Linked DNA regions of Homo sapiens. The protein of the gene in region 1 purifies or fractionates together with the protein of each later gene. This does not show direct contact. Each region holds a gene or a part of one and is shown in the gene's direction. Other genes may lie near its edges. The genes, in order: HS2ST1, ERGIC1, EPHX4, GPC1, ERMP1, ATP12A and HEATR1.

The links.
Region 2: the proteins of HS2ST1 (region 1) and ERGIC1 purify together in Homo sapiens (affinity purification with mass spectrometry; one large-scale study listed by BioGRID and IntAct). This does not show direct contact.
Region 3: the proteins of HS2ST1 (region 1) and EPHX4 purify together in Homo sapiens (affinity purification with mass spectrometry; one large-scale study listed by BioGRID and IntAct). This does not show direct contact.
Region 4: the proteins of HS2ST1 (region 1) and GPC1 purify together in Homo sapiens (co-immunoprecipitation; one large-scale study listed by IntAct). This does not show direct contact.
Region 5: the proteins of HS2ST1 (region 1) and ERMP1 purify together in Homo sapiens (affinity purification with mass spectrometry; one large-scale study listed by BioGRID and IntAct). This does not show direct contact.
Region 6: the proteins of HS2ST1 (region 1) and ATP12A purify together in Homo sapiens (affinity purification with mass spectrometry; 3 studies listed by BioGRID and IntAct, with this or other methods). This does not show direct contact.
Region 7: the proteins of HS2ST1 (region 1) and HEATR1 purify together in Homo sapiens (affinity purification with mass spectrometry; one large-scale study listed by BioGRID and IntAct). This does not show direct contact.

Annotation. Positions count from the first base shown.
Region 1 is NC_000001.11:86,917,239-86,921,230, forward strand, and holds part of HS2ST1 (heparan sulfate 2-O-sulfotransferase 1), read left to right. Parts: intron 1-3,992. UniProt on the Homo sapiens protein: Catalyzes the transfer of a sulfo group from 3'-phospho-5'-adenylyl sulfate (PAPS) to the 2-OH position of iduronic acid (IdoA) or glucuronic acid (GlcA) within the heparan sulfate (HS) chain and participates in HS biosynthesis.
Region 2 is NC_000005.10:172,837,016-172,841,007, forward strand, and holds part of ERGIC1 (endoplasmic reticulum-Golgi intermediate compartment protein 1), read left to right. Parts: intron 1-334; exon of another isoform or gene 335-558; intron 559-3,183; exon of another isoform or gene 3,184-3,855; intron 3,856-3,992. UniProt on the Homo sapiens protein: Possible role in transport between endoplasmic reticulum and Golgi.
Region 3 is NC_000001.11:92,028,356-92,032,991, forward strand, and holds the start of EPHX4 (epoxide hydrolase 4), read left to right. Parts: upstream 1-1,629; 5' UTR 1,630-1,724; coding exon 1,725-1,955; exon of another isoform or gene 1,956-2,032; intron 2,033-4,149; coding exon 4,150-4,235; intron 4,236-4,636.
Region 4 is NC_000002.12:240,459,407-240,463,398, forward strand, and holds part of GPC1 (glypican-1 precursor), read left to right. Parts: intron 1-2,784; coding exon 2,785-3,176; intron 3,177-3,940; coding exon 3,941-3,992. UniProt on the Homo sapiens protein: Cell surface proteoglycan that bears heparan sulfate. Binds, via the heparan sulfate side chains, alpha-4 (V) collagen and participates in Schwann cell myelination.
Region 5 is NC_000009.12:5,823,060-5,827,051, reverse strand, and holds part of ERMP1 (endoplasmic reticulum metallopeptidase 1), read left to right. Parts: intron 1-1,832; coding exon 1,833-1,960; intron 1,961-3,050; coding exon 3,051-3,156; intron 3,157-3,992. UniProt on the Homo sapiens protein: Within the ovary, required for the organization of somatic cells and oocytes into discrete follicular structures.
Region 6 is NC_000013.11:24,700,615-24,704,606, forward strand, and holds part of ATP12A (potassium-transporting ATPase alpha chain 2), read left to right. Parts: intron 1-132; coding exon 133-308; intron 309-1,320; coding exon 1,321-1,457; intron 1,458-3,992. UniProt on the Homo sapiens protein: The catalytic subunit of a H(+)/K(+) ATPase and/or Na(+)/K(+) ATPase pump which transports K(+) ions in exchange for Na(+) and/or H(+) ions across the apical membrane of epithelial cells.
Region 7 is NC_000001.11:236,552,444-236,556,435, reverse strand, and holds part of HEATR1 (HEAT repeat-containing protein 1), read left to right. Parts: intron 1-177; coding exon 178-336; intron 337-496; coding exon 497-631; intron 632-780; coding exon 781-885; intron 886-971; coding exon 972-1,140; intron 1,141-1,683; coding exon 1,684-1,838; intron 1,839-2,696; coding exon 2,697-2,855; intron 2,856-3,454; exon of another isoform or gene 3,455-3,992. UniProt on the Homo sapiens protein: Ribosome biogenesis factor; required for recruitment of Myc to nucleoli. Involved in nucleolar processing of pre-18S ribosomal RNA. Required for optimal pre-ribosomal RNA transcription by RNA polymerase I.

The DNA of each region.
Region 1 (3,992 bases):
CCAGACACGGTGGCTCACGCCTGTAATCCCAGCACTTTGGGAGGCCGAGGCCGGCGGATCATTTGAGGTCAGGAGTTCGAGACCAGCCTCGCCAACATGGTGAAACCCTATCTCTACTAAAAATACAAAAATTAGTCGGGCGGGGTGGCGGGCGCCTGTAATCCCACCTACTCAGGAGGCTAAGGCATGAGAACCGCTTGAACCTGGGAGGCAGAGATTGCAGTAAGCCAAGATCACACCACTGCACTCCAGCCTGGGCAATAGAGTGAGACTCAGTCTCAAAAAAAAAAAAACCAAAGAACAACAGAAAGCCATTTTTGCAGATGCAGGAACAGGCTTAGAGAGGTTATATAACTTGCCCAAGACCACATCGCATTTAAGTGGCAGAGCCAGGATTGCAACCCAGGTATGTATGATTCCAAATCAAGTGCTCCTTTAATTATGTCCGGCTGCTTAAGACTTTATATTGACATTACGCTGAGATTTAGGTATTTGAATAGAGTTTTAAAATTGTAATATCAGTGTTTAATTGCATTTATTGCTAAGAATGAATATCATTCAGAGAAAATTGAATTTCTGATACAAAGGAATTGGTTTAATGTAACGTCTGCCCCTTGTTTAGATTCATGTAATGAACATAATTATGTTACCCAATGAAACAACTGAATTAGATAGCTTATTTTTACTATAGGAAAGAAAAATCTAGCTGTTTTCCATACGTGCAAAATCACAATGTTAAAAAAGCATTTTTATTTTGGCATAAAAAACCTATTAAACATTTTGTCCTTAAAAGTAGTTATTATCATTTTCATTGTAGAAGATTCCAAAGGATAGTATTGTCTGATAGTGGCTTTAATATACCTTGATTTGAGAGTACAGTATTTTGATGGTGAGACTTCTAATAGAGCAATAGATGTATTCAAAACTGAGGTGTACTCATTGACTACTTGGGAAATTCACTAATTAGGAATTCCTAAAAAAAAAAATTCAGTAATACAGCTTTTTATTTTTATTTTTTAAAAAACAAATATGGCATTGTAGTCCACATATTACAATGCGGCTTGCTTTTTTTGCCTTGAATGTTATACACATCTTTCCAGGTCAGTACATATAGATGTGACTTACTCATTCTATTAATAATAGCTGTATAATATTCCAAAGTATGCATGTATCATAAATTATTAAGCCATTATTCTAGTAACGGACATTCAGTTTGTCCCCCATCTGTCGTGTGTGTGCGTGTGTATATATACATATATATATAATTTTTTTGAGTGTTTCTTTTCTTTCTTGGTATTATAAACAATTATAGGAAACATCCTTATGTGTCCGTTTAACTCATGTTGATGTCATTTTGTGCTAGGATGAATTCTGTATGTGAGATTGCTGGGACAAAGAATATACATATTTTATAATTTAACAGATTTAAAAATCTACTTTTCAACATTTTTTTGTTTTTCAAAAGATGTAGTAATCTACACTGCCAGCACACATTCATTAGCACTAGAAGATAATCAGCTTTTAATTTTTGCCAGTGTGAAGCTGTGAAATGATATATTCAATTAATTTACCTTCTAATTTCTAGGTAGGTTGAACATCTTTACATGTTTATTGCCCTTTTATTTGTTACTTTTTTCTATTTTTCTATTGGGTGGTTTACTTTTTTTTTTAAATATTAGAATTAGTAATCCTTTATCTATCCTATGTCTTTTTTAAATTTTTTTTATTTTTATTTATTTATTTATTTATTTATTTTTTTGAGATGAGCCTTGCTGTCACCCAGGCTGGAGTGCAGTGGCACGATTTCGGCTCACTCCTGCCTCAGCCTCCCAAGTAGCGGGGATTGCAGGTACGTGCCACCACGCCCAGGTAATTTTTGTATTTTTAGTAGAGACAGGGTTTCACCATGTTGGCCAGGCTGGTCTTGAACTCCTGACCTCAAGTGATCTGCCCCCCTCTGCCTTCCAAAATGCTGGGATTACAGGCATGAGCCACTGCACCCGGCCTCTTATTTGTTTTTGTCCAAGTTTGCCATTTGTTTCTTGACTTTATGGTGTGTTTTGCTCATATAGAAGTTTTAAAATACACACAGTTAAATCTATCAATTTAGGGAAGTCGTTTTCATATTTTGCTTAGGAAGACTTACCCAGAGCCAGGATTGTGTACATTTTCTGTATTTTATTATAGTATTTTATAGTTTATTACATTTGGCTCTTTAAACCATTTGTATGTTTACAGAGATTTATCATGATTTTCTCAGTAAATCATTTTTTCCAACTGTATGTTAACATTCCTTCTTTTAATCACATACTAAGTTTTCATATGTTCTTGGATCAATTTTGGATGCTATTTTCCATTAATCAGAGATTCTTTAAACCTCGGGGACCCATAAATAGGCTTCAAGGTATCAGTGAATTCCCTGAAATTATATACATAACTTTCATCAGATTTGCAAAGGAGTATGTGATTCCTTTAATGGCAAGGATCACAGATTTATAGTAGATGTTTCATATTTAGTGGACTTTTTTTTGTTTTTAGTAACATAACGTGCAGATTGTGAGTTAAATTTAGGAGATAAGCTTATTACCTGTGAAAAAGAGAAGTTTTTCAACTTCAAATGAAGTTAATACTTCATTGTATTAAAATGTAGACTTAATTTTCTAGTGAGAAATGGAAAAGGACAGGGAATCCAAATGAAAACTATTTAACTGTGACTCGTTACTATAAAATGTCAGAATTTGTGGCTGGTAAAAAGTAGTTCTTCCCGAATTTCAAGAGCGCACTTGTTGCTAATATTGACTGGTCGAACAGTGCAGTGAAATATTTTCTCACATAAGTGATAGAACTATGTGCTTGGTAACTTTATTTTCTATAGGGTTTTAGCATTGTAAATAATATTTGTTGACTGTATTCTTACATCTCTATATGGATTTATGAGCACATTAGGAATAATCTTTTACATGGGGAAAATAATTGAGAATGGATTATGTAATCATCCATTGGTGAGAATTAATGTTAGTCATTATGTTCTTAAAACTCTACTAGACTAAACAACTAATTCCAGGGCCAAGGTTGAGACTGCTTTTTGGAATTTGGTAGTTTTTACAAGTAAGTTCCTGAAACCATGCAGCAATACCTGTAAGATGTTCCAGAGAATGCTAGATTTCCTCACTTCTGAAATCATTTGGAAAACCTCATAGTAGCTACTGTTTTGAGGACTTTGGGTTAATAGGAATACAGTTATTCTAGAATTGGTAATTGGTGCCTCACTTAGTCTTGAATAGGATGTCTAGTGCCATGGAGTAGTCACCTGAAATAGTTGATCTCAATTAAGATAATTCCAGGATGTCTGTCCACCACTCTGGTAGGCCTTCTAATAGCTTTTTGGCACTTAGAGAAATTGAAATAATAATGAATGTTCAAAGATTGCTCTCCAGAAGACCATTTTTGAAGGATGTACTTATAGATGAACTTCATAATCATGGTTCACTATAGCCTAGTTATTTTTAAGATCTACCCACCTACCAGTACCTGTACTTACGTATTCTGCCTTTCTGCCTGTTAACAATAGATGGTAACTGTCAGTGCTCCTGTTCGGTCATTTGTGCACCTGATTCTGTTGCCTCACTTACCTAAAGACATGGTTCCCGAAGCTTTCCCTCATTCTCCTGTCACAATGTATTCTTGAAAATTGCTAAGAGAGTGGATTTTAAGTGTTTTCACCATACCAAAAAAAAAAGTATGTGAGGTAATGCATGTTGTCTTAATTAGCTTGATTTAGCCATCCATGATATATACATGTTTTAAAACATGTTGTACATGATAAATATATACAGTTTTGTCAATTACAAATAAAAAAAAACTATCTTGGTAAATGTTCCAGGTGAACGTGAAAAATATGTATTCTGTTGTTATTGGCTGAAGTATGCTGTAGATGTCGGTTGGTAGTATTGTTATGGTGTTTTGTATTCTTGATTTTTTTCTGCCTCTTC
Region 2 (3,992 bases), on another chromosome or scaffold:
TTGGAGGGGCCCACCATCCTGTCAGCTCTTTTAAGAATTGTGGGGAGTGGAGAGGGGTATACCGTGATTAGACCTCCTCCCCCAGTTCAAGGCCAGGGAGAAAACCAGCCGTCCTGCTCGTGTTCCCCTTCTTAAAATCAGAAGCAGGAAAAATAGTGCACTCTTGCCCTTCCCTACGGATACTTCTGATTTTCTTACTGCCTGTAGAGCCTGGTGCAACTGAGTTCTGTGTTTTCCTGTCTGTGAAATGGGAATGAGGAGAGTACTCACCGAAGTAGAACAGTTGAGGGATGAGGCAGTGCGGAAAGCATTTAGACACAGAGTAAGCGCCTCATCCATTTTGGCCGCCATATTTATTTGTGTCATTTTATTTAAGCACCCATCATCTCCTAACACATTATATAATTCACTTAATTATCATGCTGCTTCTCTCTCCCTCCCATTAGTACATGAGCTCCTGAGGGCAAGAAGTTTTTATCAGGCTTCTTCAAGGTTGCATCTCCAGCACCTAGAACTGTGCTTGAGCCAAACTCGATCCTTGGAGATGCCTCTTGAAATCTGTCAAGGAAGCCATAGACATGACGTGACTTGATATGCCAGCTTCAGTGGGCAGATTTTCAGCCATTAGTGGAGAAATCTCCCCTCTCCACCCTTGAATCTGCCGTTCCTAGGTTGTTTTTGGGGTTAAGGAAGGAGGCAGAACGCAGGGGAGGGAGGCTGAGCTTTCAATGATTTATTGTGTTTGCTTTGCTCTTGTTAAATTGTTTCACTAATGGCTGGCTGTTGCAGTTGTGGAACTAGCCTTGTGACCCACATCCGTGTGTGTTGTTTCGAGTTCCGGCTGGCCTGGGGCCAGTAGCACCTGCTGCCTTCTGCACACCAGCCCAGGGTGGGTGAGGAGGGAAGATAACAGCATCCGGAAGCCCTGTGCCCAGGCCCAGTGGTGCCTGAGCACTGCCTTCCGGGAGGTGCAGGTGGCTGCTGTCCCACAGTGACAGCCCCCATGTTGAAAACCCAAGGCCTCGGGGGTGCCGCTGCACTGGCACTGACCAGATGTGCTCTGGGACCATTGACTTCCCCTCTCGGAGCCTCCATTTCTTCATTTTAAGGAGGGGATGTAAACTTCGCTGCCTCACCTGGTAGAGTAGATGTAGGGGCAAGTGTGATCAATGCACACTTGCAGGATCAATGTGCAATGCAACTTGCAATGCAGGATGAGGCCCATAATTTGTGGGGCCCAGTGCAAAATGAAAATGTGGAGTCCCTTGTTGAAAAAGTATTAAGAATTTCAGGACGGCAGCAGCAGCGCATTCAGCCAAGCATGGACCCCCCTCTGAGTGTGTGACCCTGTGTGCCTGCACAGGTCATGCGGCCCTGATGGGGCTGGCCCTGCTGCAGGGCCTTGGTTTGGCCTCTACCATTTTTCACTCTGGCCTTCTGAGTGGTCTTTCTCCCTCCAGGATACCCCAGACCTCCTCAGGACTCCCTAGTGAGCTTTCCAAAGTTGATCTGATATTTTCATGTCCTGATTTCAACCTTCAAATGGGTCTCATTGCTCTAAGGATCCAGTGTGAATTCCTTTTTAAAAAAAAATTATATAGAGATGGGGTCTTGCTATGTTGGCCAGGTTGTTCTTGAACTCCTGGCCTCAAGTCATCCTCCTTCCTTGGCCTCCCAAAGTGCTAAGATCACAGGCATGAGCCACTGCACCTGGCCCAGTCTTAATTCCTTAGGCCCCAATAGGGAATGGGACCCTGGTAGCCCCATCAGTTCCTACACCAAGCTAAGCCTCAGCCACCACAGGGACCTCTGAGCACAGAGTTAACATTCAGCAGAGAGTAGCTAACATGAATGCCTGTATTTCTACCCTGCTGTTTCTTCCAGAAAGAATTCCAAGGAAGCTGACAAGAACATATACTTTACAGCAAGTTTTAAAAAATATAAAATGAGCGCTGTGGCTCATGCCTGTAATCCCAGCACTTTGGGAGGCTGAGGTGGGCGGATTACCTGAGGTCAGGAGTTTGAGACCAGCCTGGCCAACATGGTGAAACCCCGTCTCTAATAAAAATACAAAAATCAGCCGGGCTTGATGGTACATACCTGTAATCCCAGCTCCTCGGGAGGCTGAGGCAGGAGAATTGCTTGAGCCCGGGAGACGGAGGTTGCAGTGAACTGAGATCTTGCCACTGTACTCCAGCCTGGCCAACAGAGCGAGACTCTGTCTCAAAAAAAAAAAAAAAAAAAAGTATATATATATGGGCCAGGTGTGGTAGCTCACACCTGTAATCCCAGTACTTTGGGAGGCCAAAGTGGGAGGATTGCTTGAGGATTGCAGGAGTTCAAGACCAAGCTGGTCAACATAGCAAGACCCCAGACCCCATCTCTATGGGGAAAAAAAAATGGCCAGGTGTGGTGATGTGCGTCTGTGGTCCCAGCTTCTTGGGAGGCTGAGGTGGAAGGATCTCTTGAGCCCAGGAGGTGGAGGCTTCAGTGAGCCATGTTCATGCCATTGCATTCCACACTGGGTAACAGAGCAAGACCCTATCTCAAAACACACACACACATACACACACACACACATACACACACATACACATACACATATAGCCTTAAAAATCAGGGCAAAAAGAAAATAAAAATTAGACCAGAGAGAAAATTATGTGAAAAGGCCAGTATTTCGGGTTTATTGAACATTTGCTAGTGCCAGGCACTGTTGTAAGGATCTTACTGTATCAGCCCCTTTAATTCTCCACAGTCCTACAAGGGAGGTGCTGTTGTTACCCCACTTTACAGGTGAGCCAGTGGAGGTGCCACAGAGTTCGGAAACACGGTCGTTCCCGTTCCTGGAGCTGGGATTGGAACACTGCCATTTGGCACCAGAGCTCCACTGTGTCCTGTAGGCTCATCTCTAAAGCTTTCTCTTTTCCATTCACTAAATTCAGAGAGAACTGAGAACTCTTCTAATTGGATTCATTGGGTTTCTCTTCACTAATCCTCACCCAACAGTGCTCATTAAGAAGCTTAAAGCCATCAACTTTTTTCCCCCTAGCCTCATGTAGCGTGATACCTGATTCTGAAATGGTCTTTAAAGACCCTCACACCAGCTAATGGCATCACCCTCGAGGGGCTCAGTTTTCCCACGCTGACCAGTGGGGGTTTTCCAGCTTAGAGCATCATGTTTACCTGCTCGCGGGGACATGGAATGAGATGGAATGTCCTCTCCTCCCAAGGCCGTTTGGATTCCTGACTGTGGTGCTGTAGTAGCAGGAGACAGGGCTTTAGCCAGCTGTGTCCTGGTTAAGTTACATTCCCCATCTGGTAATCCTTTCGTATTTTATTTGGAGTTACTCCTAGCCAGTTTTTGTCAGGCGTGGGAGAGACAGGCAGGGTGTGAAGAGGGTATTTGGGGTGAGGCTTACCCGGTACATCTAAATCAGTGAGCCTCAACCCTGGCTGTATATTAAAGTCTCTCATGTGATTCTAATGCACAGCCAAGACGGAGGAGAAGTGCTCTGAATTGGGAGAAGCAATAGCAAGCAGGGCTGAGAGCAGCAGGGGAGCCAGGTCGGGTGGCGGTGGAGAGCCTTGCCTCGGGAGGCTGGGGCGTGGAGTTCCCGTCCCACCCATCACTCCTGCATGACCTTCGGCAACTCTGTTACCCCACCAGTGAAGTGGACAGTAAGGGGCCGTAACTTTCTACTAATAACCTTGCTCTTCAAAGTGCAGTCCCAGATGCCAGCTTCAGCAGCACCTTGGAGCTTGTTGGAAGTGGAGAATCTCAGTGCCCACCTGGAATCTGAATTTGTATTTTAACAAGATCCCCAGGTGATTCATGTATTCATTAAAATGTATAAAGCCCTGGTCTGTATGATTGATTTGACTCAGTGTCCTCCAGTCTGTGTCCCTCCATGCCGCACTGGCTGCCTCACTGAGGACTCTGAAGAGTCCGGCACTGAGCGAACCAGAGTTATTTGGTTCAGCCCAACATTTGC
Region 3 (4,636 bases), 5.1 Mb from region 1:
TTAAAGAGTACTGAGAGATGCCAGGCGCGGTGGCTCACACTTGTAATCCCAGCACTTAGGGAGGCTGAGGCGGGCGGTTCACGAGCTAACCTGGCTAACACGGTGAAACCCCGTCTCTACCAAAAATACAAAAAACTTAGCCGGGCATGGTGGCGGGCGCCTGTAGTCCCAGCTACTCAGGAGGCTGAGGCAGGAAAATGGCGTGAACCCGGGAGGCGGAGCTTGCAGTGAGCTGAGATGGAGATCGCGCCATTGCACTCCAGTCTAGGCGACAGAGTGAGACTCCGTCTCAAAAAATAAAATAAAAAGAGTACTGAGAGAAATGTATAGGTGCTAAATGATTGCATTAGAAATTGCAAAGGTCTCAATAAGTTCCTAACTCAAGACCCTAGAAAAAAAGAGCAAAATACAGTTAACCCTCAAACAACATGTGTTTGAACTGTGTAGGTCCACTTACACATGGATTTTCTTCCACCTCTTCCCTCCCCCTCACCCCAAGACAGGAAGATCAACCTCCCTTCTTCTTTCTCCTCCTCAGCTTACCTAACCTGATGATGACAAGGATGAACACTCTTAAGATAATCCACTTCCACTTAATGAATAGTAAATGTATTTTCTCTTCCTTATGATTTTAACATTTTTCTTAATTATAAAGATACAGTATGTAATACATAAACATATGTTAATTGTTTTGGTCAGTAGTAGGCTATTAGTACTTAAGTTTGGGGGAACTCAAAAGTTATACATGGATTTTCAGATGTGAAAGGGTTCAGCAACCCTAACCCCCCGCATTGTTCAAAGGTCAATTGTATAACTCACACATGCTGAAGTAAATTCAAAATTGTACAGCCACTTTGGAAACCAGTTTGACAGTTTCTCATAAAAAATGAACACTTAATACCTGACCCGGTGATTGGGAAAAGGCTTAATGAAATTCTAACAGTGAACTGGACGATAGAAGAGGTCAGGACAAGAGTGGCCATGTCGGTGCTGAGGCTGAGATACCTACCGAGGACTGTCACTCTCACGGCTTCCAGCCCTTCGACGAACTCTCAGGTGTGTGGCCTTCTGGCCAGGCTTCTGCCGCGTCACGTTGTTGAAGCATTCGTTGTATCCCTGGGGTTGCAGCTCTCTGTAAGTTTGCTGTGGCTGAACCAGGCAAGGCATAGGCGGATTTCTACAGAAATTATGATTCCACGAAAGATTTTGAGAAGAGGAAGGCTGGTATCTTTCAGAGTGCAGAGTGATTTTGCACTCTAAAGAATCTCTTTGGGTGTAATAGCATGGAAGTTTGTCGCTGACCTGTGTCCCTGAACTATGACACACGAATATGTGGGCTTAGAAATAGTTTTGCTTGATACATTGAGAACAACAAAGAAGACTGAGTGGCGCTACCTTCTTTGGTGCCCAGGATGGTTTGGGAAAGTCTCGCCTTCATCCTCCCCCACAGTTTTGCGATTTTGAAACGGGATCTCGCTCTCCGCGGAAGACAGCCAAGCTCTGCACCCCGGCCTGGCCCGCCGCACCCCGCAGGCCCGGCTCTCCCCTGCGCGCTCCGGGCTGGGCGCGGCGCGTGTGCGGAGCCGCCGCGGTGACACGGAACGCCGGCCGCCCCGGGCCGGGGGAGGCGCGCGTCGAGAGGCGACGGCGGGCTGGCCTGGCGCGCTGCGGCGCTCGCTCACCCGCTCCCGAGGAAGGGCAGTGGGCCCCGCCGCCGCCTCCCAATGGCGAGGCTGCGGGATTGCCTGCCCCGCCTGATGCTCACGCTCCGGTCCCTGCTCTTCTGGTCCCTGGTCTACTGCTACTGCGGGCTCTGCGCCTCCATCCACCTGCTCAAACTTTTGTGGAGCCTCGGCAAGGGGCCGGCGCAGACCTTCCGGCGGCCCGCCCGGGAGCACCCTCCCGCGTGCCTGAGCGACCCCTCCTTGGGCACCCACTGCTACGTGCGGATCAAGGTGAAGGGCCGCGCGGGCCTGGCGGGAGCGGGAGGGAGCGTGACCGCCGCGAGGGTGGGGGGCTCCGGGCTTCTCCTTCCGAGACGCTGGCTCAGCGTCCCCTAGTGTCCTGGCAGGAGGGGAGGAGGGGTTGGGTCCCTGTGTGTCGTGTGTGTGTGTGTGTGTGTGTGTGTGTGAGAGAGAGAGAGAGAGAGAGAGATACAGATAAACAGCACTCGGTCTTTGCAGGCACCTTGATTGGTTTCTGAATGTGGAACTTCTCTAATCAGGGGCCTCTTATATTACTGCCCCCCGGCGCCACAACAACCCAGAATAAACCTGCTCTTTTTCCTACTGCAAGGGGAAGCTGTCTCCTGTCACCCTTTTGCCCTTTAGAGCTCAGATCAGCTGTAGAGAATTGTTCCTCGTGGCATCCTAATGTCTCAGGAGGCTGTTCTTGCCCAATTTTAGAGATAATAAGAGTAAACAGTCAGTCTTTGGGAGTCATGAGTTTATTATGATCACAGACGACTTAGGTTGCATGAAACAATAAGTAAATTGTGTGTGTTGTGGGGAGGAATGCATACTTATGAAGTCAGGGACCAAAGAAAGGAATGGAATAAAAGGTAAATCCAGCCATGCCTGCAGACGCTAATTGTTCAAGCTTCCTCACAGCCCACAAATATTCTGTTTCCTGAGGCTCCAGGTGGTGAAGGGAAATAGTTCCCGTGATACACCCTGCAGTCTGACTCACAGGCCTTTCAAACCCAGCCTCATAAGAGGGGATGTTTATGTCACCAAGTCCTTATTTCCTGTTAGGAGCTAAATTGCCCCGCAGCTGAAGTTCAGAAGGGCAAGAGAACTTCTTTCTTGCCTGGGGTCGACATGAGAATTAAATAGGTTAATATTTATAAAAACAAACACGAAAAACTTAGAACAATGCCTGATGCATAGTCAGTGCAATAAAGTATCTGTTAATTAAATCCATTGCAGTGCCCATAACATTTAATCCTCCAAGACTCACCACCAATAAAAAAAGTTATTGAACCTCTAGGAAGCCATCGTGCAGCTGAGGGTAAAGTCAGATTTGTTATCTCTGTTCAACCTGAGGGGTAAAAGTAGTATAAGAACCATCTGGAATTCCATAAAACACTTTTCCCCTCGCTCTGGCCGCCTAAAGAGCTTCCCCAGAGACAGAGAACCGAGTGGAAAGAGCATTGTCCTGGGAGTTAGGACAAGATGGAGATTCTGGTCACAGCCCTGCTCTCAACCATTTTATGACTCATGTTACCATCTTTGGGCCTCATCTTCTGAATCTGCAAAATGATTCTTTCACATCTGAAAACTCAGTTGCTTGAGTTGCCTGCTATAAAAACCCAATGTCTGTGTTTAGCTTTTGGTTCTTTTTGTTTCCTAGCTTGCTTGCTTTCAGAGATTTTTATTCCTGCTGTTCCCTCTACTTTCCTCAATTCAGCCTGCTTAGTATTTGCTTGAATTCCTGACTCATTCCCATGTTTTTTTAATTTTCCTTGGGTTTTCTTGTCTCCTACATGCAGAGTGAAGTCTTGAGCACTCAGGGCATTCTCTTATTAGAAACGCACACTGACATGACATGAGCAGGCAGCAAGGGGAACAGAACATGCAACACTCAAAATAATAATGTGGGAAGGAGAGACCTAAAAATAAGAGAAGGAGGTGTGAATTATATAACTGATGGCACAGCTCTTGACGGGCAAGCTGAGAAAAGTAGATGACTAGGATGTAAACATGGCAGAAATATAAATTCAGATTAGAATTATTTACATGTCCTGCAGCATTTGAGGGAGATGAAATGTGACACATCAGTAAGATGAAAGTTACAAATGGTAAGATGAAAGTTACAAATTGTGACATTGCTTCAGAAGCTCATAATATATAAATTGACTGTACTAGAACAAGAAGAGAAGGTACTGTCAAGGGAGTGTTGACAAAGTGAATCTGTCAATTTACCCTATTAATAGGTCATGGGGTTTGCTTTTCTTTTTGAAAATTAATAAAAGTAAATATATTTCTTGATGTTAAAAATAAGGCAACTGAGTGTCATGAAGATATTGTAAATACACAAATGTTTTAAAATAAGGCAAGTTACTATTTTTTTAATGAAATGGAAATGCTAAATATATTGCTTTGTCAATCAACACAAACATCACTAAAATTCCATGCCCTCTACTTTCAGGATTCAGGGTTAAGATTTCACTATGTTGCTGCTGGAGAAAGAGGCAAACCACTTATGCTGCTGCTTCATGGATTTCCAGAATTCTGGTAAGCTTACCAACTAACATTTATTGTTACATTAAAACTTGGCTTATTTTCTCAGTTCATTTTGTGCTGCTGTAACAGAATATCACAGTCTGGGTAACTTAAAATGAACATAAATGATTTTCTCAGAGTTCTGGAGGCTGGGAAGTTCAGGATCAAGGTGCCAACATCTGACAAGGGCCTCCTTGCTGCAACATCACATGGCAGAGGAGGAAGGGCAAAGAAGCAAAAGGGGGCCGAAATTGCCCTTTCATAGTGGCATTATTTCCATCCATGAGGGCAGAGCCTGCATGACCTAACCACCTCTTAAAGGTCCCACCTCTTAATACTGTTACAATGGCAATTTTTGAGACAAGGTCTTACTCTGTCACCCAGGCTGGGGCACAGTGGCATGATCACAGCTC
Region 4 (3,992 bases), on another chromosome or scaffold:
GAGTGTGCACAGCCCATTCCCAGTGCACATTTGGGGACAGAGGGCCTATCCCATCAGCCCCTCAGAGGCTCCTGTCACCAGCAGATTCTCCTGAGCACCTGCAGGGAGACAGGCCTTGGCCAAATCCTGCCTGCAGCTCGTCAAGTGCCCCAGGCCACTGCCCCTGGGGACCAGGTGGCCTGGAGCCAGGGAGCTCAGTGCAAGGGCTGAGACTGGGGCTGGGGACAGGGCTGCAGAGTGCAGGGCCTGCCTGGGGTGGCCGCCACTCAGCCCTTTATATCGGGGCAGGAGTCTGGGGGCCGCGGGGAGTGACCCCTGCAGGCCTTGAGGCCCCGCCAGCTGCTGCATTAGAGCCACGTACTCCTCGGCCCAGGCTGGGCCTCGCCTTGTGTCTGGGCAGAGAGTGGCAGCCACCCCCAGGGGGACAGTGTGGGGTCAGGAGGTCCTCCATGAAGTGACCTCTGATCAGAAACACGAGGACTTGGTGGAGGGAGGCGGCCCGGGCTGAGGTACTGCCCCTGTGTCCGGGCGGAGCCAGGGCGCCGGGACAGTGAGCCTGGGCAGACAGGAGGGAGGGAGCGCTGAGGCTGCAGGGCTCCATTGTGGCTGTGAGGGACGGCAGCTGCTGCTGGGGCCCTGGGGTTTGTCTCAGCGTTCCTGCTTCTCCGGCTCCTGGACACCTGCTGTGGCCTCCCAGGCTCCCGGGAGAGTCTGCCTGTCCCCAGGAGCCCCCAAGGCCATTTCCACAGGGCTGTGGGACCTCAGCTGTTGGCGTACACCTGGGTAGCAGTGGGTCAGAAGCTCCCTCTCTGTGACTTGGACATCGATGCTCAGAGCTCAGCCCTCCCCGCTGGTGTGGGGCCCGTGGGATGCGCGTGGCCCCTCTGGGACTCTCCTTCCTCCTGCCCAGCTGGACCCGGGGAGCGAGCCCCTGCACCCTGAGTCAGGAGCCTTCCTGAGCCACTTGGTTCTGTCCCATGTGTAGGGACCCGGCTCACCTCCTCCACTCTATCCTGGGCCTCAGTTTCTCCCCAGCGCCGCTGAGCCCTGGCTCCCGCCCCAGCGTGCCACCCAGCCCTGCCCCTTCCCCTCTCCTGCTAATACCCTTGCCCATCACACCATCCTCCTGGCCTGGGGACATCCTGCCCGCCTGCTTCCTCCTGGCTCTTAGGGGGTTGGTGTCGCTGCCCTGCTCTGGGGCCTGTCCCGTGTCAGTGCCCTGCCGCCGCCCTCCCTCTGCTGCCCTCTGGAAGCCTCCAGCCTTCCTGTTCAACTCTCCTATCTTTGACCTGAAAACACAGACACCCTTTGGGGACATTTGTATTAAAAATGACCCACTATGTGATGTGCCCAAGGCCCACCTGTGCCCCTACCCCAGGGAGTCTTGTCCAACCCCCACCTCCTATGTCCTCCCCTCCCACCCCTGCCCATGGCAGCTGCTGTCCCCTCCCAGCCTCCGGGGCAGCTGAGGGCCCCTGGGTCTTTGTCTGCAGTGCTGGTGGGAACCAGTGGGAGGCGGTAGGAGGGGAGCCTGGCTGGACCTCTGGTTGCTGTGTTCAGGGATTTGGAGCCCTGTGTCCGCCCCCCCACCAGCCTTCAGGAGCAGCTGAATGGGTTCTGGCAGGAGGTAGAGCTGGGGACTGCACCTGGATTTGGCCCATGGCCCTCTAGGTGTGTCTGGGCTAATGCATGAACCACAAGCCGCCCCTTTCCGGGACAGGCCAGGGCGTTCCAGGCGCCAGGACCCAAGGTGGACACTGGACAGCTGTGTGGCCCGTCCACCCTCCCCACAGCGGCCTGGGAGCTCTCTGTAGCCCTGCCAGCCCTGAAGCCCCAGGCCTTGCCAGGGGTCAGCGTGGGGGCTGATCCAGAGATCTCAGGCTTGACGGCCCCCGTGCCTCAAAGGAGAGCCTCTGCCCTGCTACCCTGGAGCACCTTGTGGTGGGCCATCGAGCCCCCGGTACCTGTGGGGCAAAGCCGGCCACAGCCCTAGGGACGCTCTGAGCAGTTACAGACCTGGAAGTCCCACTTCCAAATGGGATGGGGAAGTCCAGGGTCCCATCTAGGCCCGGGGTACGGGGGCTTTTCCCTAAAGCCCCTGCAGCACATGTGGAGGTCTGAGGGTGAGCCTGTGCCTCCACACCCCCTGCCCAGCAGGGGAGATGTCTGGGGTTCTAGGCTGCAGGAGGCCCCCCAGAGCCCTCAGACAGGCCCGGGGTGCTCACAGCTGAAGCTTCTAAATCGCAGAAGCTGAGAGAAGACAAGAAGCCTAGGAGAGCAGCCGAGACAGGGTGGCGGGAGGGGCAGCAGCCCTGGAGACTCGCAGGGCAGGCGGCTGGGGCCACGGGGAGCACAAGTGGGGACCAGTGGAGAGAAGGAGCGGCTGGCAGGGGGGCACAGACCGGCCCTGCCCCTCTTACCCCAGTGAGTCCCCATCTCCACCAGCAGCCCCTCCCTGGGTGTTCTCAGGGGGTCACTGAGTCACAGAGCATCTGTTCTGCCCAGGGCTCAGCTCAGAAACTGCCACTGGAGCCCCAGTCAGAGGCCCTGAGACCCGAGAGGACCCCCTGCCACCTGGGCCCCTGCTCCCCAGGCCAGGGGGTGAGGTCTCGGGGCGCCCCATGGATGCCCACAGGGCCCACAGCCGCTGCAGTGTGGCGTCCGACTCCGAGGTCCTCAGAGTGTATCCTCAGAGCTGAGTCTCCCGGGCTGAGTCCCCTGCTCTGGTCCAGCTGCCACGGCGGGGGAAACATGGTCCCGATCACGCCCCCTCCCTGTGCGCAGACCACTTCCAGCACCTGCTGAACGACTCGGAGCGGACGCTGCAGGCCACCTTCCCCGGCGCCTTCGGAGAGCTGTACACGCAGAACGCGAGGGCCTTCCGGGACCTGTACTCAGAGCTGCGCCTGTACTACCGCGGTGCCAACCTGCACCTGGAGGAGACGCTGGCCGAGTTCTGGGCCCGCCTGCTCGAGCGCCTCTTCAAGCAGCTGCACCCCCAGCTGCTGCTGCCTGATGACTACCTGGACTGCCTGGGCAAGCAGGCCGAGGCGCTGCGGCCCTTCGGGGAGGCCCCGAGAGAGCTGCGCCTGCGGGCCACCCGTGCCTTCGTGGCTGCTCGCTCCTTTGTGCAGGGCCTGGGCGTGGCCAGCGACGTGGTCCGGAAAGTGGCTCAGGTGCGCACAGCCACCCAGGGCTCTCAGAAACCCCTCCAGACCCCCATGCTCTGCCCAAGGGACTTCCTCTTCCCCCTACTTTAACCCTGTGCCCCTGGGCCTCTGGGCCAGCCTCTGACCTCAGCCCCACAGCCTCAGTCCCTCCTGCATTGGCTGCTGCCCATGGCCTGCTAACAGCGTACCCACAGATGTGAGCCTTGCTCTGGGCAGGCGGCTCTGGGCTGGCCCATCCCTGCCCAGAACCATCATGGGCCAGGATGGGAAGGGCCAGGGGCTGGGGCTGGACGCTGAGCCAGGCTGTGGAGTGAAAGTGCAGAGGAGACAGAAGAGAACAACATGCGTGGGGGCCGGGCAGGGTGGGGCCCCAGAGCCTCGCAGGCCAGGGGGATGCCTTGGTCCCTTGCGGGGCACGTGTCAGACCCAGCTAAGCTGGGACATAGGGAGGGCGTCAGCCTCAGACCCACATGCCCTGGGTGGGAACTGCCCCCACCTCCAGGCTCCTGGGCAAGTCATGCCTTGGTTTCCTCAGCGGCATGCGGGTGAGGATATTCTTGCCTCCCTGTGACCCTCGAGATCATTAAAATGAGGGCCGTCTGGGCTGGCAGGCCCTGCGAGTCAGGCAGCGACCACCACGAGCTGGGGCAGAGCAGAGGCCTCCCCTGACTTCCCTCCAGAGCCCCCTACCCTGGGGCTTCGTTAGGGGCTGGCCGGGGCCAGGCACCCCCAGGGCCTCGGGGCCTGGCTTAGGGTCCCTTGCTCCCCAGGTCCCCCTGGGCCCGGAGTGCTCGAGAGCTGTCATGAAGCTGGTCTACTGTG
Region 5 (3,992 bases), on another chromosome or scaffold:
TTTTGGGGGTGGCTTCAATTTCAAGGTTAATTCTAAATGGAAAGGGATGTCAGCTAACCACCTAGCCCTTATAGATACTGTCCTCTTAACTTTCCTTCCCTTTCTTAAAGATATTTGACTCTTCTGTAGTTCTCTTTTAACGCACCAGAACCATTAAAATAAGGGAAGCTGAATGGACAGTTTAACTTTTTAATCAACCCTGTATAGATACCTTTCAATTTCCCTTTCTCTCTTTTTGAATAAAGAAACATTTTATTGTTTGCTCTCTATTTTAAAGTAACTCACAGTGTCAAATTAAAAAGAGAGTTTATTTCATTAGGTTTTTGGAAGGTGACACATTTTGCTAATAGCAGCATTTTCTATTTGATAGTAATTAAATGATTATTACTTTGTTTCACTTCGATTGAAATACAAACCAGTAATCACCACCAAGACAAGTATGGTTAATAGGTAATTTCTTCTTAAGTAGGAATGGGGTCTGGAATTTAACAGAGCCCAAACAAGCATTTTAATTTTAGCTAGCTACAGAGCCTTCCTCAGATTTGCAAAGAGAGGGAAAAATGAACATTGAATACCTACCAGGTGCTAGGCACTGGGCATTATCTTGTGTGACTCTTAAACCTGTGAGGTAGGTATCATTAGCTTGCTCTTTCAACCAGGAAATAGTGGAGTAAAGTGACAGAGCTCAAATTTACTTCCAAATCTTTCTTGCTCTCAAATCCACGCCAAACTCTTTGGCACCCTGCTTCAAATGTGTAAACCCAGAAATGTTACTGCCTGAGTTACGTTAGTGCTTATTTACTTTGATTACTCTTTAAGTTTTCTGATATGGAAAGTTTCAAATATATTCAAAAGCAGAATTGTTTAATGAACCCCAGTGTACTTATCTCCCAGCTTCAGCAGTCTGATCTTGTTTCTTTCCTACCACTACCCTCCCAACTTCTTGATTATTTTGAAGCAGATCTTAGCTATATCAGTTCCTCTCTAAAAGTATTTCACTCTGTGTTGCTGGCAGATAAGGGCCCTTTTTGATACCACCAATTGCCTCACCTAAAAAAACCTAACAGTAATTCCTTGGTATCATCAAATATCCAATCAATTCCTTTAATTGTCTCTTACAATGCTTTAAAAAAGCAAGACAGTTAAGTCATCTTTATAGTTACTTTTAATTAACATACAAAATTTCTGAATCAAGAAGAGGTTCAGAGATTCAACTGAGTGTGTGTTCTGGGACCTAGGATACTACTTAGGTCATTAGTCTCCTTTCCTGTGACTTACTAGATTAGGTATCTTCTTTTTAGTTTTCCATCACATAATCCCCTTGGAGAAGCCTTAAAGGAATGTTACACCATCCAAAGTGACCTCTCTGTGCAGCTTTTATGATTTTGGCAGGAAAACAAGCAAGAAAGGAGTGGGTGCAGTGGGAGATGATGCAGGAAGCTGTGAGCACCAGAAGTGAGACTATTACAGAGGATGTGGAATACGGGTAAAGAATAGAACAGATTGCCTTGGTTTGCTGAGAATACCAGTTTCCAGTATGACTTTAGGTCCCCTCAGGTTACTTCATTTAGCAGACACTAATTGAGTGACTCTGGTGGGTCAGGCATGGTAGTAGGCATTGAGAGTAAGTCAGTGAGCAAACCAGACAAAGATCCCTTCATGGAACTTACTGCTGGTGGGTGTGATTGTCACCTGATGATGACAGAGCTATGCTTCTGGTCATGCAGCTATTGTGATGCTTCTCTGAGGAGAAAGCTCCATTCCTAGTCCTAATGGGTCATATTGTAAACATTTTAAAATCTGAGCAGCAAATTTGTTTTTCTGATTTGAAGGTGCCAGTGATGATGCAGTTAGCTGCTCAGTGATGCTGGAAGTCCTTCGCGTCTTGTCAACATCTTCAGAAGCCTTGCATCATGCTGTCATATTTCTCTTTAATGGTGCTGAGGAAAATGTCTTGCAAGTGAGATTTTACTGTTTTAAATATCAGGCTTGAATAAGGATGAGATTAATAATAATAGCTAAATATTATTTACTAAATAGTAAATGCATTTTTTATGACTCCTGTGGGTAGTATAAAATAATATGCAGAAAAATACTTTATGAGCAGTACTTTAACAAATTCACAACCACTTATGTAGAGATGTTTAATATTTGGAAAACTCCACTTAGCAGATTATTGTGGCAGGATTTGATTGAGAGAAGGGCTCTCGCTGGCATAATTACTCTCCTCAGGTTTTCTTTGACATTGAAGTTTCAGAGATGTTTTGAGACAGGCACAAATAAATGCCCAGCCATATGGATCGTCTCTTCTCCTGTTCTCTTTTTTTTCTTTCTTTTTAAAAAGAGAAGGGGGCCAGGCACGCTGGCTCATGCCTATAATCCCAGCACTTTGGGAGGCCGAGGCAGGCAGATCACGAGGTCAGGAGTTTGAGACCAGCCTGGCCAACATGGTGAAACCCCGTCTCTACTAAAATTACAAAAATTAGCCAGGCGTGGTGGTGGGTGCCTGTAATCCCAGCTATTCGGGAGGTTGAGGCAGGAGAATCGTTTGAACCTGGAACGTGGAGATTGCGGTGATCCGAGATCGAGCCATTGCACTCCAGCCTGGGCCACAGGCTCTGTTTCAAAAATGAGCAAACAAAAAAAGAGGGAGTCTCGCTATGTTGCCCAGGCTGGTCTCGAACTCCTGAGCTCGGGTGATCTTCCCACCATGGCCTCCCAAAGTTTTGGGATTACAGGTGTGAGCCACCGTGCCTGGCCCTCTTTGCCTTTTCTTTTGCACAGCCTTGTACTTACCAGGGATGTTGTTTGGCACCGCTGATGGTCACCAGGCTGCCTTCTGTGATAGGTGACTTTCCGAACCTGATGTGCATGGCCATTATGCATAGGAAAAGAAGCAGAAGATGTCTTTGGATACTGCCTTTGAAGAGCGATTATTTTGTTTTCATATTCCTTACCTCATCAAAGTAGTCTCTCTGTGTTTAAGCAAAATCAAGACTGATAATTTAAGATTGTTTAACAAATATTTGTTTTCTTTCCTTCTCTTTAAGGCCAGTCATGGTTTCATTACTCAGCACCCCTGGGCTAGCTTGATTCGTGCATTCATTAACCTAGAGGCAGCAGGTGTAGGAGGGAAAGAACTTGTATTCCAAACAGGTATGTGAGATTGTGCGTTGTATATTTTAATGCAATTCTAGTTTTTGTAAAAGTAGAAAGTTTTTGATTATAAATAATATCTTCAATAAACAGTCTCTTGAATGAGCATTCTTTTTAAAGCATGAGGTGGTGTTAGCTTGTCTTTGTTAAAAATTTTGAACCAAATAATGCAGCATCTAACACTTGTATAGTGCTTATTATATGCCAAGTGTTGTTCAAACCATTTCATATATATTAAGTCATTGAATCCTCCAAACAACATGTAAGATAAGTACTGTTACTTCCATTTTAGAGATGAAACTGAGTCCAGAGAGATTATAACTTGCCTAAGGTTTCACAGTTGTTTAATGGCAGAGTGTGATTTGAACCTAGACAGTCCGGGTCCAGAAACTTTGTTCTTAACCTCTAATTGGATTGTTATATAGGTAGTGAACTTTTAGCCACTGTGGGTGGTTATGATATAAATATTGTTAAATGTCAATCATTTCATGAGTTAAAATGAGAAAATTTACCTGTAGTGTATGTAACAGGTTTAAATTTATCATTGATTTAGTGGAATGTTAAAAAAATTTAGTAATATTTAATCAGCCAGAATAATTTTTATTTTATTGTTTTTTTAGAGACAGAGCCATGCTCTGTCACCCAGGCTCGAGTGCACTGGTGCCATCATGCAGCCTTGACCTCCTGGGTTCAAGTGGTTCTCCTGTCTCAGTTTCCTGAGTTGCTGGGACTGCAGGTGCTTGCTATCACGCCTGGCTATTTAAAAATTTTTTTGTAGAGACAGGCTCCCATTATGTTTCCCAGGCTGGTCTCAAACTCCTGGGCTCAAGTGGTCC
Region 6 (3,992 bases), on another chromosome or scaffold:
TTAAACAATTCTGGCTTATTCTAATGTATTGGTAAAACAGCAGAGGACCAAGGTGTATGAGCATGTTCTCCTCTTATTTTTTTTCGTTTCCTATTCTAGTTTCACTGACTCACTAATTCATCTGTATTACAGGTTTCTGTCATCTCTACCTGCCAGCAGACGAGTTTCCAGAAACCTACTCATTTGACATAGACGCTATGAACTTTCCGACCTCCAACCTCTGTTTTGTGGGACTCTTGTCAATGATCGATCCCCCTCGGTCCACCGTGCCAGATGCAGTCACCAAATGCCGGAGTGCAGGGATCAAGGTGGGAGTTATTTTCCTGACTCAAGAAGTTCTTTCTTTATGTCGTGTTCCTTTCTAATAATGGTTTTCATAGCAGATGGTCAGTATTTAGGTGTCTTCAAGTAAATATCATAATTCCTATTTTATTTCTAGTTTCACTGTGCTAAGGTTACTGAAACTGTCCCACAAAAAGAAAATGATTGTGTCTATGTGGAATGAACCACATAAACAGTAAATGCAATGAGAAGAATCTCCTAGTGCCTTGAAGTGACCATATCTCGCCCTAGTCCATGGTAGATACTAAAAGGCTTTATTGGCTGGGCGCAGTGGCTCATGCCTGAAATCCCAGCACTTTGGGAAGCTGAGGCAGGCGGATCATCTGAGGTCAGGAGTTCCAGACCAGCCATGGCCAACATGGTGAAACCCCGTTTCTACTAAAAATACAAAAAAATTAGCCAGATGTGGTGGCACACACCTGTAATCCCAGCTACTCGGGAGGCTGAGGCAGGAGAATCTCTTGAATCCAGGAGGCAGAGGTTGCAGTGAGCCGAGATCACACCATTGCACTCCAGCTTGGGCAACAAGAGTGAAACTCTGTCTCAAAAAAAAAAAAAAAAAAAGAAAGAAAGAAAAGAAAAGAAAAAAAGAAAGAAAAAAGGCTTTATTACTCAGTCTTGAGGCTCAGCCCCCATAATCCATGTTCATCATTACTAGGTTAATATTAAGACTGTTGAAGTAACATGGGGCTACCCCCAAGTAGACACTCACCAGCCCTTTCACAAATAAAGTGGCATCAAAGGGGAAGGGCTTCCTTTCATGTCAGAGGAGGAAGCGTATGAAGCTTAGGAGCAAGGGTAGACCCAATGGGATTAGTGTTTCCTCCAAAGACAGTTGTCTCGTAGATCCAGAGCTGCCACTGTAATCACCAACCACGTTCTCCCAGGGCACTACAGAGTAGGTATTACTGAACCATCCCCACTTTGGCCAACCGAGTTCTTCATTACCCGTGGGCCTTCTCGTTGTCTTTGCTCTAGGTTATTATGGTTACTGGTGATCATCCCATCACAGCCAAAGCTATTGCCAAGAGTGTGGGGATCATTTCAGCCAACAGTGAAACAGTGGAAGACATTGCACATCGCCTCAACATTGCTGTGGAGCAAGTTAACAAACGGTAAGCACAGGAGCAGCATAGTAAAAATTCCAGTTTATACCCATGGGGCCCCACTGGCTCTAAAGAGCTGCACTACTTGGAACAAATCAGCTTTTTGCTCTCAGAGTTATGCTAGGCTTGTTTGAGCTATTATTTGCATATCCATGTATTCACTCTAATTTCACTGAGCAGCTAATATGTGCCAGGCACAGTATTGATACCATGAAATGACCCTTTATGTGTTCCTTGTTTGAAATTTCAAAATCCAGTGTGCCCTGGGCACAAAACCTATGTGCCCAATTTAGAATAAGAAAAACTGAAACAAAGGGTTTATGTGAAATTACTTGCCATAGATGCAGTTGCATAATTTGGAATCGTAAGAACCCTGTGGGTTGTTTCATGCACCCTCCTTGGTAAGCATCTTGGGTATTTATCCACCCGGTTTCATAACGTGTAGCTATGTAAACACACCCTTCTTTTTTATTTGGTAATAGATAGAATGGAAGCTTCCTAAGGAAAGTTTTTTTCCTTGTTTCTCCTAATTCTTTTAATCATGTTTATCCTTATTCTTTTAATCATGTTCATCCAACTGTACATTCACTCATGTATTTGTTCTTTCAACAAGTATTTACTGCGTGCCAACTATATACCAGGCAAGACCTGGAACTACAGTAGCAAACTGAACAATACTATCCACACCGTTGGGGAATCTTTCCATCGAGCCAAGGAGACACAAACAAAGCTAACAATGATGTGGCCAGTGTAATGAGGGAGCCACACAAGGCTAGGGAGCTGGGCATGCAGGAGAGTGGCCTGGACTGTGCCTGGTCTCCATGAGTCAAAGACTCCGAATTCTCAGGTTGAGAAGTAATGTTCATTAGCTGGGTTATGTTTTCACGCATGCGGGAGATGAGGGAAAGACCAATGCACCTCTTCAGTTTCCCCAAGCACTTAGGTCTTTTAGGGACACACAGCTGTCAGGTCATAACAAATTACCACGTTAGACAACCAACCAGGGTTCCCGCCTCTGGGCACAGCAGCAGTACCTGAAGTCTAAGAGTCTTGCAGTGCCCTTTAGTATACATAACATCCCTCTATGAAAACAACTTTGGGGCTTGTTTATTTGTTTGGTTTTGTAAGATAATCGGATTATACTTTTTTTCACTTTAGAATTTTAAACAAATTTTGTTTGTTTGTTTGTTTGTTTATTTAGACAGAGTCTCTCTCTGTCACCCACGCTGTAATGCAGTGGTGTGATCTCAGCTCACTGCAATCTCCACCTCCTGGGTTCAAGCGATTCTCCTGCCTCAGCCTCCTGAATAGCTGGGATTACAGGCGCCCGCCACCATGCCTGGCTAATTTTGTATTTTTAGTAGAGACGGGGCTTTGCCATGTTGGCCAGGCTGGTCTCAAACTCCTGACCTCAAGTGATCCACCCACCTTAGCCTCCCAAAGTGCTGGGCTTACAGGCGTGAGCCACCACACCTGGACTAAAAGAAATTTTTTTAAGAGTAGTCAAGTGCAGTAGTGAGAAGAGGGGAAAGAGTAGAAGTTTGATCTGTAACTGACTGTGAACAATCAGTTGAGCTAATTCACTACTACCTTCAGACCAGCCGAGTCTTCTTTTTTTAGATACAAGGTGTCCTGTCAGATCACCCAGGCTGGAGTGCAATGGTGTGATCATAGCTCACTGCAGCCTCGACCTCCTGGGTTCAAGGGATCCTCCCCTCTCAGCCTCCCAAGTAGCTGGGACTACAGGCTTGTGTCACTGCACCCAGCTTCATTTTAGCAGATTTTTTTTTTTTTGAGATGGAGTCTTTCTCTGTTGCCTAGGCTGGAGTGTGGAGTGCAGTGGTGAAATCTCATTGCAGCCTCCACCTCCTGGGTTCAAGGGATCCTCCCCTCTCAGCCTCCCAAGTAGCTGGGACTTTAATTTAAAATTTTAGCAGATTTTTTTTTTTTTGAGATGGAGTCTTTCTCTGTTGCCTAGGCTGGAGTGTGGAGTGCAGTGGTGAAATCTCATTGCAGCCTCCACCTCCTGGGTTCAAGCAATTCTCCTGCCTCAGCCTCCTGAGTAGCTGGGGTTACAGGCATGTGCCACCACACCCGGCTAGTTTTTGTACTTTTAGTAGAGACGGGGTTTCACGATGTTGGCCAGGCTGGTCTTTAACTCCTGACTGCAAGGGTTCTGCTCGCCTTGGCTTCCCAGAGTGTAGAGATTACAGGCGTAAGCCACTGCGCCTGGCCCATTTTAGCAATTTTTAATGAAAGTTGTATATAAGATACCTTATTCCTGCATCTTCTCAATTGCTTCTTTTTTATATTTGCCCTTCCTTCCCTACTTAGGAAGATTTGTTTGGCCTTCCATTCAAGGATCTTTTGTGGTCTTTGTCTAGTTTTAGCCTGGTGATGGCCATGTGCTGGTGACGTGCACACGACGGTCCTGCCCTTAGCCTCCTCCTGTGCTCCTGTTCAGTATAGGTGGCACATTTCTTCCTATAAACCTGGACTGCTTTGCCAATTTGCTGGCCCGTATAGTGTCTTTGTGCAACCTCA
Region 7 (3,992 bases), about 150 Mb from region 1:
TCTGCCCAGTTTTATCCACTGACGTTTAGGGCTGACTTTAAAAGGAATTCTGTGTGTAGTTAAAAAGTGCTAAGCATTTTCCAAACACTAGTACCTCATCATGAAGCCTCTCTGTAAGTGTGTGTTTGTCAGCGAAGATCTGCAGTGGCCCTGATCACTTTTTTTATATTCCTGTAGGTGATTCATCTGGAGAAAATCACTAGTGAAATGGGTTCTGCGTCACAGGCTAATATCCGTCTCACATCTCTTAAAAAGACACTGGCTACCACACTTGCACCCCGAGTCCTGTTGCCCGCCATCAAAAAAACTTACAAGCAGATTGAGAAGAACTGGAAGGTTAGATCTTATTGGGTATTAAGACTTTGGAGAAGGGAGAGGTGGTACTGCAATGTGTAAACTTTGACTTAAAGAAGAAGATTTAGTTTTTAAAAATACACACCGCTGAACTCTAGGAATCATTTGAAAATGGCACATCTCTTTCCTGTGTTATTGGTAGAATCACATGGGTCCGTTTATGAGCATCTTGCAAGAGCATATTGGGGTGATGAAGAAGGAAGAGCTCACCTCCCATCAGTCTCAGCTAACCGCCTTTTTCCTGGAAGCCCTGGACTTCCGAGCCCAGCACTCTGAGGTAAGCTCAGGTTCACTCCTCCAAATCCTAAAGCTGTTATCCACCTATTGAAGAGTCCGAGAACAATCTAGCCGTGTAACAGTGGTACTTGCCAAAATAATTTACAGTCAGGTATCAGCACTCTAATAAATGGGCTCTTCTGTTTTCAGAACGATCTGGAGGAAGTTGGAAAAACGGAAAATTGTATCATTGACTGTCTAGTAGCCATGGTTGTCAAACTTTCCGAGGTCACATTCAGGCCCCTGTTCTTCAAGGTGACGCTTTCTTCCTCTTCCTCTCTTTTGTGCTCAGATTTAAGTGACAAGATGTCGAAGAAACTAATACTGTCTTATCCTTTCAGCTGTTTGATTGGGCTAAAACAGAAGATGCCCCAAAGGACAGGTTGTTGACATTTTACAACTTGGCAGATTGCATTGCTGAAAAGCTGAAAGGGCTTTTTACTCTGTTTGCCGGCCACTTAGTGAAGCCTTTTGCTGACACCTTGAACCAGGTGAACATCTCCAAAACAGGTGGGTGGTCGCTTCAGTTCAGCTGTCACCCTTGCCCTGTGTGCCTTATACAAGGTACCAGTAAGACACAACCTAGTGCTTGGAAGCAAGATTTTAGAGGTTCTTAAGTCCTAAGCTAAGGAGGGTGAATTTTTTACTTCATTGTTGTCAGACAGTGAAGTGTTGTTTTAGCATCATGAGCGAATGTTATAAGTCACCTCACTTGGGAGAAAGAATAAAGTAAATGGCCGTTACTGTCAGTTACTGGAAGTAACTTTAAAACGCAAAAATTAAGATTAGTTTATTCTCTAATGCTAATACGTGACCCACTTGACAGTTGAGGGAATTTAACTTGCCAGAGTGAGTGTTAGAATCTTAACTCTAAAAGAAGGAATCATTCTTCGAGAGACCATCCATTGTGTTCTGCCTTCGTCCTGATTATGATTTCTAGATCATTTTAGACTCTTCTGATTTAGTTATTTTAATAGTGATTTCAATGTAAACATTGGAGATTAAATGGTTAAGTTCAGTGTTTTTTCATTTTTACTCTTCCCACGTCTACAGATGAAGCATTTTTTGACTCTGAAAATGACCCTGAAAAGTGCTGCTTGCTGTTGCAGTTTATTTTGAACTGTTTATACAAAATCTTCCTTTTTGATACCCAGCATTTTATAAGTAAAGAGAGAGCAGAAGCCTTGATGATGCCTCTGGTGGATCAGGTAACCAAACAGAATCATCTTTCGTTGCTGAGGAAGCCATCACTGTTCGAGCTTGGCAGGTTTTAGATCTGCTCAAATGACAGCTTGCTAGGATTTTTCTTTGTAAGGTTGTTTTTTCTGGTCTTTTTAATGAAATGTTTTATTTGAAAATTGTTTTTTCAAAGATATAACTTCATTGTGGAATTTGAGTTTTGTTTTGTTGTTTTGAGACAGGGTCTTGCTCTGTCACCCAGGCTGGAGTGCAGTGGTGCAATCTCGGCTCGCTGCAACCTCCACCTCCCGGTTTCAAGCAATTCTTGTGCCTCAGCCTCCCGAATAGCTGGGATCACAGGCGCCCGCCTCCACACCTGGCTAATTTTTGTATTTTTAGTAGGGATGAGGTTTTGCCATGTTGGCCAGGCTGGTCTCGAACTCCTGACCTCAAGTGATCCACCCACCTTGGCCTCCCAAACTGCTGGGATTACAGGCGTGAGCCACCATGCCTGGCCCTGAGTTATTTTTTATTTTTTATTTTTTAAACTGCTCAAAAGACAGACATGATATAAGCTGTCATGGTTAATGTATTCATTTGTTTTAACTGGGCCTCACTGAGAACGCGTCAGAGCATGGCTGTCCTCTGGAGCAAAGAGCTCCTCTGAGATGTTCTGCTGGAGAGAAAGGGGCGATGATAAAGGGTATGAGATTCCATTTGAGTTCTAGAAGGCAATACATTTGCCCTAGAGAGTATTAGAATAATGCCTGGTTTTTGAACCTGCTAATATCATGAAAGATAGTAAAATATTTGTATGTTGGATATTTTTTCAAACAGAAGAAAGAAATGAGACTTGTTGTTCAAAGTCTTTGTCTTACTCTTCCTAGCTGGAAAACAGGCTTGGGGGAGAAGAGAAATTCCAGGAACGGGTGACAAAGCACCTGATACCATGCATCGCACAGTTTTCGGTGGCCATGGCGGATGACTCTCTTTGGAAACCACTGAACTACCAGATTCTGCTAAAGACGAGAGACTCCTCGCCTAAGGTTAGGAACTGCGTGACAAGTACTGAAACTGCATCTTTTCACTGCATAGCCTAAACAGCCTGCAGGTGGTCACAGATGTAGGCCCCCTAGTAAACTGGCAGGGAAGAACATTGCTATTTGTCATCCAGTACTAGAGGTCCGGTCTTTTGTATTAGGCAGAAATTTGTGCCTAAGAAAATTTTGTTTTTTACTTACAGGCTATTTGTAAAGAATAGCAATGCCCTATCCCCACCCCAATGGTGCGTTGGGCAGAAGTACTAAAATACTTTCTAAATACTTTTAAATAACAAAGATTTGAAGTAATTCCTTCTTTTTTAAGTGCCATTGAAATGTCATTGTGCTCCAGAGAGAAATGCATTGAATTTATCCACACTATAGTCTTTTGAGTTAGAGCAATACATTCTGTTGTTTATAGATACTAGGCTTATGATCTTGTTGAGTAAGTGGTGGCAGTGGAAATAAAACATGGGTAGGTTGAGTGGAAGTCAAAATTTGACACCCAAGTGTTACGAATTTCAAACTGTTTTAGCAATGAGTCACCATTTCTCAAACTAATGATTGTATTAGAACTTTACTGGCTATAACAGACCAAAGCAGAATTTTATTAATAGGATTTATTAGTTCAAATTCTTTATTAGGATATGCTAACAATGAGACTATTATGATGAACCCCCACATTTTAAACCATAGGTTTTTATACAAGTAGCAGTATCAAATTTATTGTAATATTTTACTTTGCACAAATCAAGGAAATCCTGATTGAATCTAGGTAGTTACAAATGGTTTTTTAATAATTCACTTTGTACTGTCCAGATATTCTTTAATTAAAATATCCAAAATTAGAAGACCAGTAGGGCTTTTGTTTCAAAAGCTAACAATACCCAACTACTGCTTGCTTTCCTTATTATAGACAAGGCATGTGAGGAACACCTAGACGTTTTTAAAGCCCCAAAACTAGGATATTGTGACACAGAATGTTTTTTATTCAGTGCTGAGATGGGAGTTTATCCCAAGCGACTGTCCTGGCCCCTCATACAATTATAGTGGTGACCAGTCAGGGGCTGTGGGTGAGGAGACCTGCCAGAGGTGGCTGGAGGCACTTTATTGCCAGCCTGGCGGGCTGGCGAGCGCCAATGA